Linked DNA regions of Homo sapiens: region 2 is linked to region 1. The links come from fine-mapping of genetic effects on gene expression. A gene starts in region 1. The other region holds a variant in brackets. All regions are shown on one strand. Distances are between the middles of the regions.

What was found. PIP is the estimated chance that this variant, and not a neighbour inherited with it, causes the effect.
Region 2: its variant is the best candidate, but not a certain one, in a credible set for the expression of C5orf34 in CD4 T cells (BLUEPRINT, PIP 0.73).

Annotation. Positions count from the first base shown.
Region 1 is chr5:43,513,137-43,518,136 of GRCh38, forward strand. It overlaps C5orf34 (chromosome 5 open reading frame 34), which reads right to left and starts at 2,012. Exons shown (of 13, transcript NM_198566.4): 1 at 1,670-2,012. LOC124900190 (a long non-coding RNA gene) reads left to right here. Exons shown (of 3, transcript XR_007058764.1): 2 at 1,057-5,000. RefSeq lists an enhancer at 1,620-1,779.
Region 2 is chr5:43,452,007-43,457,539 of GRCh38, forward strand. It overlaps TMEM267 (transmembrane protein 267), which reads right to left. Exons shown (of 3, transcript NM_022483.5): 2 at 1,652-2,037. The coding sequence starts at 1,963. Among named protein-coding and RNA genes, the nearest start is that of TMEM267, 29 kb to the right of the region's middle. The variant ATT/A (reference allele first, on the strand shown) is at 2,202.

The sequences.
Region 1 (5,000 bases):
ATATCATCTGTAATCTTCTGAGGATATGTCAGGATATAAGTAAATATTTAACCACATGGTCTCTCCTGAGGAGATTCACACACTTTTAATTATTTTCTTTCTCTAGAGAACTAAATGTACCTGACCTCTCACAGAGCTTTCAGGTGGCTGCCTGCTAGACCGCTCTCTATGTCCCTGTCCCATAGATAAATCAAACTCAACATAACTAAAATGGAACTTAATCACTCCTACCAAAAGCAGGCTTCTGTAATACCCCCTAATTGCACTTTCACTCTCATCTCTTCCCTCAAATCCAGTCTGCATACAGTAGTGCCCAGAGGGATCTTTTAAAATGAAAATCACATCTATCACTTCGTGGCTTAAAACCCACCAGTACCTTCCATTTCTACTTAAAATCCAAACTCCTAAACTATGGCCTACAAAGGCCACACAGTCTGGTCCTATCTACCTCTCCCAATGTCATTTCTCAACTCTCTCCTACTTCTACAGGGCACTTTAGATACATTGGCATTTTAAATGTTCTTTAAACAAGCTCTTTCCCATCTTTGCAGTTCTTTCTGCCTGCCTTGTCTTTTCCTTGGCTAATCACAAGGCTGGTTCTTTATCATCATCAAGGTTTCAGCACAAATGTAACTCCTACAAGGGCCCAACGACCAACTAAGTTAAAGTTACTCCCAAACATCTCCCAATCATTTGTCATCCCTCTTCAAGTTTTTTCTTCATAGAATCTATCATCAAAATTGATTATTTACTTGCTTTTTATTTTCTCCCACTAGGATATAAAGTCAACCGAAGCAGGGGCCTTATCTGTCTTATATGTAACAGTATCTCTGGCATCTAAAACAGTATTAGGCAAATAGTAAATGGCACAATAAATATTTGAATGATGAAAAATAAGTAAACTGCTCCTCTTGAATTTGCAATTTGAATTAATGGTGTCTCATTGTTAGCAGCCAATATTCTAAAACTTGACTTTCCACTCCATGCCCCTGTAACAAGTCCTGTTGATTTTCTGTCTTTGGAACCTGACTCTCTCTACCTCTTTCTCTTTTTCAGGCCATAGACTCTCCAACTCCTGCAACTGTCTGGAATTTCTTCTCTCTCCAATCCATCTCTAGTATTGATGACATAGGTAACTTTCCACAAGTCACACCATACCAAGTGCTTTACATCACCTGTTTACGTACTTATCAAATGGCAATATAGATTACAGATATATATATAAACACACACGTATATATCGGGTATGTCTACTTGGTATTTTAGGGGAAAAAACGGGTGCTGATACATAGATGGAAGACATTTTCTGATTCCAATTTGGGAAAAATAGTCTATCTTTGGTCAGGTCTTTTTTTTAATAGCTTTACTGAGGCGGTTTTCTAATTTTAAATAATCAAGCATACACAACAAACAGTGTAATGACTAAGGTTCTTGGCATACCATAGGAAACCATAACCCGGCTCCAACCCACACTGCCATTCTCATCTCTACAGTCTCATTCCCGCTTGCGTTCTCATCACCCAGCACATTACGTCAGGGTATGTTTAACACTCAAAAATCCACAAGTCTGTTCTTGACATGAATGAGAATCTCATTTCTTTCAAAATGCTATAGTCTCTAGTTACAGAAGGAGCCTGATCAAAACAACCACCAAAAGTCTTCCACTCACAGCAGTTCGGAGCCGAAAAGTTGCGGAAATGAGGCCCAGCAACGGTCCCTGGCTTTGATTTGCCAAAATGCTCTGGAAGCCGCAGCGTCGGCGCCTGCCCACCACTGCTTCTTCAGGGGTTTCTTCAGTTTGACAAATTACCAGCGAGTGATATTTCTTGGTGAAAGAAAAAAATCACAACCCTAGAGGAATAAGGTGGCAGGGAGAGTGTTTTGGCCAAGATGCCCGCCACGAAACAGGAAAGCGGAGACAGCGCCAACTGTAACCACTAAGAGAAAGCGCAAACCGCACAAGACCAGTTCAAAACCAGCGCCCTCAGGGAGCCGCTTCAGAGCTCCGCAACAGGGAAGACAGGAAGTCCCGCCCCTCCACAACAGGAAGGGCCGGAAGTCCCGCCCCTCCACTCCGGAGGCTGCCCTCGCTGCGTTCCCTACGAAGGGCGGAGCAGGAATTGGTGTAGGAAGGGGACGGGTGTTTCCTTGTTCGGAATGGGGTTGGCTCCTCTTTGATTTTTTACTTCTGGTGACCCACGCAAAAGCAGTCCCGACCTGGTTGTATTAATAATAAAGGCTGTAAGGATCAGCCTTTTGAACGGTCCAGCCGAGAACTAACCACAGAGCGCGTTTTAGTGGAGTGGTACTTATTTTTAAATAAGGTAAAAAACGATTATACTTCAGTAAAGCTGTTTAGAAAAAAAAAAACTTGGCCAAAGATGGAGAACTCTTCCTAATTTGGTATCAGAAAATAGGTCGTCTATGTATCTGCACCTTTTTTCCTTATAAAGTGGCAAATAAATGTGTCTGCTATATTTATTGCCACTAAACAAGTGTTTATGGAACACTCACTGTGTGTTTAGGCATAGTGGGGATAAAGCAGGGAAGGTGGCCCAGTTCTTTGCGGGTGAGGATCAGAGCTAGAGATTAACTGGAAAGAAAGAATAAACAATCATTTATTACAGTTGTGAGTGTTTCTAAGATAAAATACAGAGGTTTGTGAGAGCATAGAGAGGCATACCTTGTTTTATTGTGCATTTTATTGTGCTTTGCAGATACTGAGTTTACTACAAATGGAAGGTTTGAGGCAACCTTGATGGAGCAAGTGTATGGGTGCCATGTTTTTCCAACATCATGTGCTCACTTTGTGTCTCTGACATATTTTGGTAATTCCCACAATATTTCAAACTTTTTCATTATTTTTGTATCTGTTAGAGTGATCTGTGTGATCACTGATCTTTGATGTCACTACTGTAATTGTTTTGGGGGACCACAGATCATGCTCATACATTATAAAATGGCGAACTGAATCTGTTACAGGTAGTTAGGCATGAGCAAGGCAGGAGAGGGCTCTCCCCTGCCACCCACCCACTAGAAATGTTGGGTGATGGTTCAGCAATTATCACATGGCCTCTCTAAAAATGAAAATTTGGCAGCGCCAGGGAAAGGCCATTTCCTGATGGCCCACACCTGTTAACATCAAAATGTTAATTGAATGCAGGCCCCAGAGAGAAGCAACTTCCTGGGCATGCCGGTTAAGAGACAAAAGTGATGAAGTATGATTTTTCTGATACACTCCACCGGAAAAAGGAAGAAAGCCTCAGATGGGCATGTGTATAAATCCATAAAATCACTGTGTGTGCTCACTTCCCAAGGGTAAAGAGGGCTCTGAGCATGCAGGGAGCCCATCCTAAGATCATGGTTAAATGCGGCACTTGACCTTCTCTCTCTCTCTCTCCTTTTCTTTTTCTTTTTTTTTTGAGACGGAGTCTCACTCTGTCGCCCAGGCTGCAGTGCAGTGGCGCGATTTCAGCTCACTGCAATCTCCGCCTCCCGGGTTCAAGCAATTCTCTGCCTCAGCCCCCTCCCCGAGTAGCTGGGATTACAGGCGCCCACCACCATACCCGGCTAATTTTTTTGTATTTTTAGTAGAGACAGGGTTTCACCATCTTGGCCAGGCTGGTCTTGAACTCCTGACCTCATGATCCACCTGCTTCAGCCTCCCAAAGTTCTGGGATTATAGGCGTGAGCCACTGCACCCGGCTGGCCTTCTCTCTTTAACCTTCACATGCCCACTTGGGTCTCTTCCATGCGTACCTTCCTTTCTTTCCTGTTCTAATGCCTGTTTAAATAAACCTCCATTCCTACTCTGGAACTTGCTTCAGTCTCTTTTCTGCTTTATGTCTGTCAGTCAAATTCTTTCTTCTCTGAGGAGGCCAGGACTGAAGTTGCTATGGACCTGCAAGGATAGGCTGCTGGTAACTTGGGGTAACTCAGATCTCTTCCACTAGTAACAAGTCGATTGATATATATTGTGTGTGTCTGGCTGCTGTATTCACTGGCCACTCTCATCTCTCACCCTCTCCTAGAGCCTTCCTATTCCTTGAGACACAACAATATCAAAATTAGGCAAAGTAATACCCCTACAGTGGCTTCTAAGTGTCCAAGTAAAAGAGGGTTGTATGTCTCTCACTTTAAATCATAACCTAGAAATGCATGATTAAGCCTGTAAGGAAGGCATGTTGAAAGCTAAGATAGGCTGAAAGCTAAGCCTCTTGTGTCAAACAGCCAAGTTGTGAATACAAAGAAAAAATTCTTAAAGGAAATTAAAAGTACTACTCCAGTGAACACATGAATAATAAGAAAAACCAAAACAGCCTTATTACTGACAGGGAGGAAGTTTGAATGGTCTGGATAGAAGATCAAACCAGCTACAACATTCCCTTAAACCAAAGCCTAATCCAGAACAAAGCCCTAACTCTCTTCGATTCTATGAAGGCTGAGAAAGGTGAGGGAGTTGAAGAAAAGTTTAAAGCTATCAGTAGTTGGTTCATGAAATTTAAGGAAAGAAGCCATCTCTGTAACATAAAAGGGCAAGGTGAAGCCACAAGTGCTGATGTAGAAGCTGCAGCAAGTTATCCAGAAGATCTAACGAAGACCATTGATGAAGGTGGCCAAATTAAACAGCGGATTTTTAATGTAGATGCAACAGCCTTCTAGTGGAAGATGTCATCCAGGACTTTCATAGCCAGAGAGAAATTAATGCCTGGTTTCAAAGCTTCAAAGGACAGGCTGATTGTCTTGTGAAGGTCTAATGCAGCTGGTGACTTGAAGTTGAAACCAATGCTCATTTCTCATTTCAAAATCCTAGGGCCCTTAAGAATTATGTTAAATCTACTCTGCCTGCACTCCAGAAACAACAGAGCCTGGATGACAGCACATCTGTTTAGAGTATGATTTACTGAATATTTTAAGCCCACTGTTGAAAATGACATTCAGAAAAATAGATTTCTTTTAAAATATTGCTACTTATTGACAATGCACCTGGTCACCTAAGA
Region 2 (5,533 bases), 61 kb before region 1:
GGTTGATGCTGCAGTGAGCCGTGATCACACCACTGCACTCCAGCCTGGGCATCACAGCAAGACCCTATCTCAAAAAAAAAAAAAAAAAAGAAAGAAAAAAGAAAAGAAATCATTATATAAAAAAGACACCTGCACTTGTATGATTATGACAGCACTATACACAATAGCAAAGTCATGGAATTAACTTAAGTGTCCTTCAGTGGATGACTGGATAAAATGTGATTGATATATAATCACACCATGGAACACTACTTGCCCATACAAAATAATAAAATCGTGTCTTGTACAGCAACATGGATGGAACTGGAGGCCATTATCCTTAGTGAAATGATGCAGAAACAGAAAGTAAAAAAGACACACATGTTCTCACTTGTAAGCGAGAGCTAAACAATGGGTACACATGGACATACAGAGTGGAATAACAGACACTGGAGACTCCAAGAGGTGGGAGAGTGAGAAGAGGTGAGAGATAAAATACTATTTGTACAGCATTAGAGTGACAGGTACACTAAAAGCTCAGACTTTACCGCTATGCAATACATACACGTTATACAACTGTGCTTGTGGCCCTAAATCCATAAAAAAAAAAAAAAAAACTGAAGAAAAGAAAAGTACTCTACTAACACCAAACAACCAGGATTCAAACTCAAGTCTTCTCATTTCAATCTTAAACAAAATGTTATGCTAACTCTACTTATAGCACAAAAGTTTGTCTTTAATTAGCAATTACTGATTCTTTACTGATTAAGTTTCTAAATAAGTGAATCAATTTCTGAGAAATACCTGGTACTTGACGCATAATAGGAAAAAGTGAATATTTCTCATTCATTCCACAAATATTTCCTGAATATCTACTAGGTAAGCCAGGCATTGTTCTAGGCCAGGGGTGAATGAAACAGAAAGTCCTTGCTCTATGAGTTTAGATTTCTTTCCTGAAATGTTTATAGATCATAAGCACGTAAAATATAGGCAAATCTTCTGACATTTAGAAAATATTATCTGAACCAACATTTTAAGTTTAGTTCATTTGTGAACTATATAACTGAACTCCTGAATGCCTCAGTGAAATTCCTCAATTTCTTCACAAGGGACTGTGTTCTAGCCAGTCCAGTTGAAATACATGCCTTTCGCTCCAAAAGGGACTGGGAGAATTAATCTGTTCAAGTCATTCCTTAGGACTGGGAATCATCTTAAAGCTATTCAACTTTTATGGAGTACTTAGGAGCTGCATACTAACTGTAAAACATAAAGAATAAGGGGGAAATGTTAAGTGTGCTCCTGAAGAAAGTACACTGATACAGAAAGAACTAGGACAGCCTTGAGAATCACCCCTGTTAATTTAAACCGGTTTGCTAATACTTTCTTCAAGACCTGGCTAAACGCATCCTCTGTAAGCCAGCACTGAACTCTTTAGGTACAGTTCGTGGGTCTTTGCTCTATGTGAATCCATAGCAGTTTGTGATGGCAAATAATTTGATTAGCAACATGTCTGTGTGCATCTTTAGGCAAGTACTAAGTGGTCAAAAAGGTTACATGAATGTGCTTTCCTATTTTAAGACAAATCCTCTCTAGTTCTAAATGATGCTGTAAAGATCAGCAAAATAGTGCTAAGGAAATTAAAGATCAGAAAAATTAAGCCTATGCTTTTTACCTTTAAAGACATGGATCCAGCTAGAAAAAAGTGGTCTACATCAATAACAGAGGCTAAAAATCCAGCTAAAATGATTTCTCCAAAGTCAGTCTTCTTCTTGATTCCAGTGACTACCGCCCATGACCACATGCCAATTACACAATGTACTGCATTATCTGAGAGAGCACGAAGCCAGTCATTTTGCTGAATTGTGGAAAACTGAAGAAGTCTGTCAGCTACGAGGCAAAATGCCCCCAGACCAAGGCTGGAAATAAGAGATTCAGTGCTACAAGTCTGCAGTAAAGCATGGGTCTTTTCAGTCTCGGATGCCATGACAAACAATATGTTAGTATAGACTAAAAGCCATCAGGAATGAACAGTCTATTCTTGTTTACATTTCCAGCACCCTAAAGGAGAAAGTAGAGAAAAATATGAATGAAGATTATGGACTACCATATAATATTTAAACAAAACAGTATCAGCAATAATTTCACAAACATAAAACCAAGATGTAAATACTGGCAACTTTTACATGTTATATATAATATGTCACATAGCCCAAGGAGAATAG[ATT/A]TTTTTTTTTTTTTTTTTTTTAGGAAGAGCAGGGTACATGGTATGTATCAAGGAGAATTTCAGAAAGCCCACCAACTGCAATCTATTGCTTTAAGGTCATCAAATAGATCTATCTCCCAGCTGTGTGTAGTACATGGTGGTGAATATCCGTTGGGTTTGTGTACCCAACAACTACTTTCCATACTTCTGACAACAGTAATCCCTTCCTTTGGGAAAACTTTCTCACATTAAACTCCAGAGCTCACCAATTAGAGTTTTCCATTTCCCTAATAATGGTGACTAATCTAGTAATGAAAGTGGTCCAGGCTGAGCCAATCAGATTCCTTTCCAAAATTTGTCTTGTGGTAGAGAAAGTTCCTCTTCTTGGAGGCCATGGGCTCCACTACACGAAATAGCCTAGGAAAATAAAATCCCAGAGAGACACAAAGGAGAAAGGCTAATAGAATCATGATGACAGTGAGTACTTATGTCCAACGTCTAAAGGTTCTCAGAGCTACCCTAGATCTTGCAGCTCCCCCTCCACTTCAATGAGCTACCCCAACATTTTCCCATCAAATCCCCTTTACATTTCTGATGCCTTGAACCAAATAACCTTAATTGATATAAAAATGCAATCATAATTCTATGCTGAGTTCTCACATGGCACAGAATATTGACATTATTTACCTAGCTAGAAAATATTTGTCTACCTAAAGTGTGACACATGAAGTTTTTTCTTTTACATTGTTTTGTTTTAATCCTGAGACTAAAGAATAACTGATTTATTGATAATGACTCAACTTCTATTACACAATAAAAGCTATACATAGCTCATTATATATATTCTAAAACTGCAGAGGACCTAGAAGAATAAAACAATTTTGAAAAACAGAAACTAAGTTGGAGGACTACTTATGCCATCTTATTTTAAGTTTCATTATAAAGCTACAGTAGGCTGGGCACAGTGGCTTACACCTGTAATCCCAACACTTTAGGAGGCTGAGGCAGGAGGATTGCTTGAGGACAGGAGCTCGAGACCAACCTGGGCAACATAGTGAGACACTGTCTCTACAAATAATAAAAAATTAGCTAGGCGTGGTGGTGCATGCCTGTAGTCCCAGCTACTTGAGAGGCTGAGGTGGGAGGATCGCTTAAGCCCCGGAGGTTGAGGCTGCAGTGGGCTGTAATCGTGCTACTGCATGCCAGCCTGGGCAACACAGAGACCCTGTCTTAAAAAAAAAAAAGCTACAGTAATCAAAACAGTGTAGTATTGGTATAATGACAGACATACAGACTAACAAAACAGAATACAGAGTGGGATCAGAAATAGAACCAAACATACCTAGTCAATTTTATTTATTTATGTATTTATTTTTTGAGATGGAGTCTCACTCTGTCACCCAGGCTGGAGTGCAGTGGTGTGATCTTGGCTCGCTGCAACCTCTGCCTCCTGGGTTCAAGCAATTCTCCTGCCTCAGCCTCTCAAGTAGCTGGGATTACAGGTGCCCGCCACCATGCCTGGCTAATTTTTTTGTTTGTATTTTTAGTAGAGATGGGTTTCACCATGTTGGCCAGGCTGGTTTCGAACTTCTGACCTCAAGTGATCCACCCACCTCAGCCTCCCAAAGAGCTGGGATAATAGGCGTGAGCCATCGTGCCCAGCCAATTTTTTTTTATTTAAGACAGAGTTTTACTGGAGTGTAGTGGCACAGTTATGGCTCACTACACCCTTTACCTCCCACGTTTAAGAAGTTCTCCTACCTCAGTCTCTTGAGTAGCTGGAGCCACAGATGTGTGTCACCATGCCTTTTTTTTTTTTCAAAGAGACAAGGTCTCCCTGTCTCTAGAGAGGCCTCGAACTCCTAGCTGGTCTCGAACTCCTGGCCTCAAGTGATCCTTGGCTTCCCAAAGTGCTGAGATTACAGGCATGAGCCATCATGCCCAGCCTGGTCAATTAATTTTTGATAAAGGTGCAAAGATAAATCAATGGAGGAAGAATATTCTTTTCAACAAATGGTGTGAGAACAAATGGATATCCATATGCAAAAATCATAAACCTGAATCTATATCTTACTCCATATACAAAAATTATCTCAAAATGAATCACAAACCTAAATGTAAATAAAACATAAAAAGATAAAATTTCTGGAAAAAAACATAAAGTATTTTTGTGTCCTTGGGTCACGCAAAGAGTTATTAGATAAAATACCAAAAGCTTGATCCATTAAAAAATTGGTAAGTTGAACTTATCAAAATTAAAAGCTTCTGATCTTTGAAAGACAATGTTAAGAGAAAGAAAAAACAATTTTTAAATCTTATATCTGATAAAGGACTTACATCCAGAATATATAAAGAACTCTCAAAACAGAGTAATAGGAAAACAAACCAATACAAAAATGGACAAAAGATGTGAAAATGGGTACCTACCATTGATGATATTCAGATAGCCAATAAGTATAAGAAATATGTTCATCACCATTAATTATTAGGGAAATGCAAATTTTAAAAATTAGATATCACACACCTGTTAAATGGCTAAAATTAAAGACTGACAATCCCAGATGTTGACAAAGATGTGGAGCAACCAGAACTCATACGCTGCTGGTCGGAATAAAAAACAGTATGACTATTTTGGAAAAACAGTTTTCCAATTTCTCAGAAAGTTAAACGTACTCTTACCATATAACCCAGTCATTCCACTTCTAGGTATTTTCCCAAAAGCTTATGTGTACACAAAGGCTTACACATGAATGTTCATAGCAGCTTTATCTGAATTTGTTCCAAGTTGGAAACAACTCAAATGTCCACAAACATGTGAATAAACAAAAGGTGGAATAAAAAGGAACAAACATGTGATACACATAAAAACATGAATGAATCTTGAAATGATTATAGTAAGTGAAAGAAGTCAAACAAACAAAAATTACACAGTTAAAACCCATAGAACTGTGCGACATAAAGGATGAACCCTAATATAAAGTATGGACTTTAGTCAAAAATAACATATCAATATTGGTTCCCTACTTGTATCAAATATACCACACTATTGCAAATATTAATAATGGGGAAAATGTATGCAGGGCAAAGGGCATCTATAAGAATTCTCTATAATATTGGCTCAATTTTTCTGTAAACCTAAAACTACTATTTAGGTTTATGTATTAGTCTGTTATTGCATGGAACTACCTGAAACTGGGTAATTTACAATGAAAAGAAGCTTAATTGGCTTACAGTTCTGCAGGCTGTACAGGAAGCATGGCTGAGGAAACCTCAGGAAACTTACAATCATGGTGGAAGGTAAAGAGGAAGGAGTCACGTTTTACATGGCCAGAGTAGAAGACTAAAGTGGAA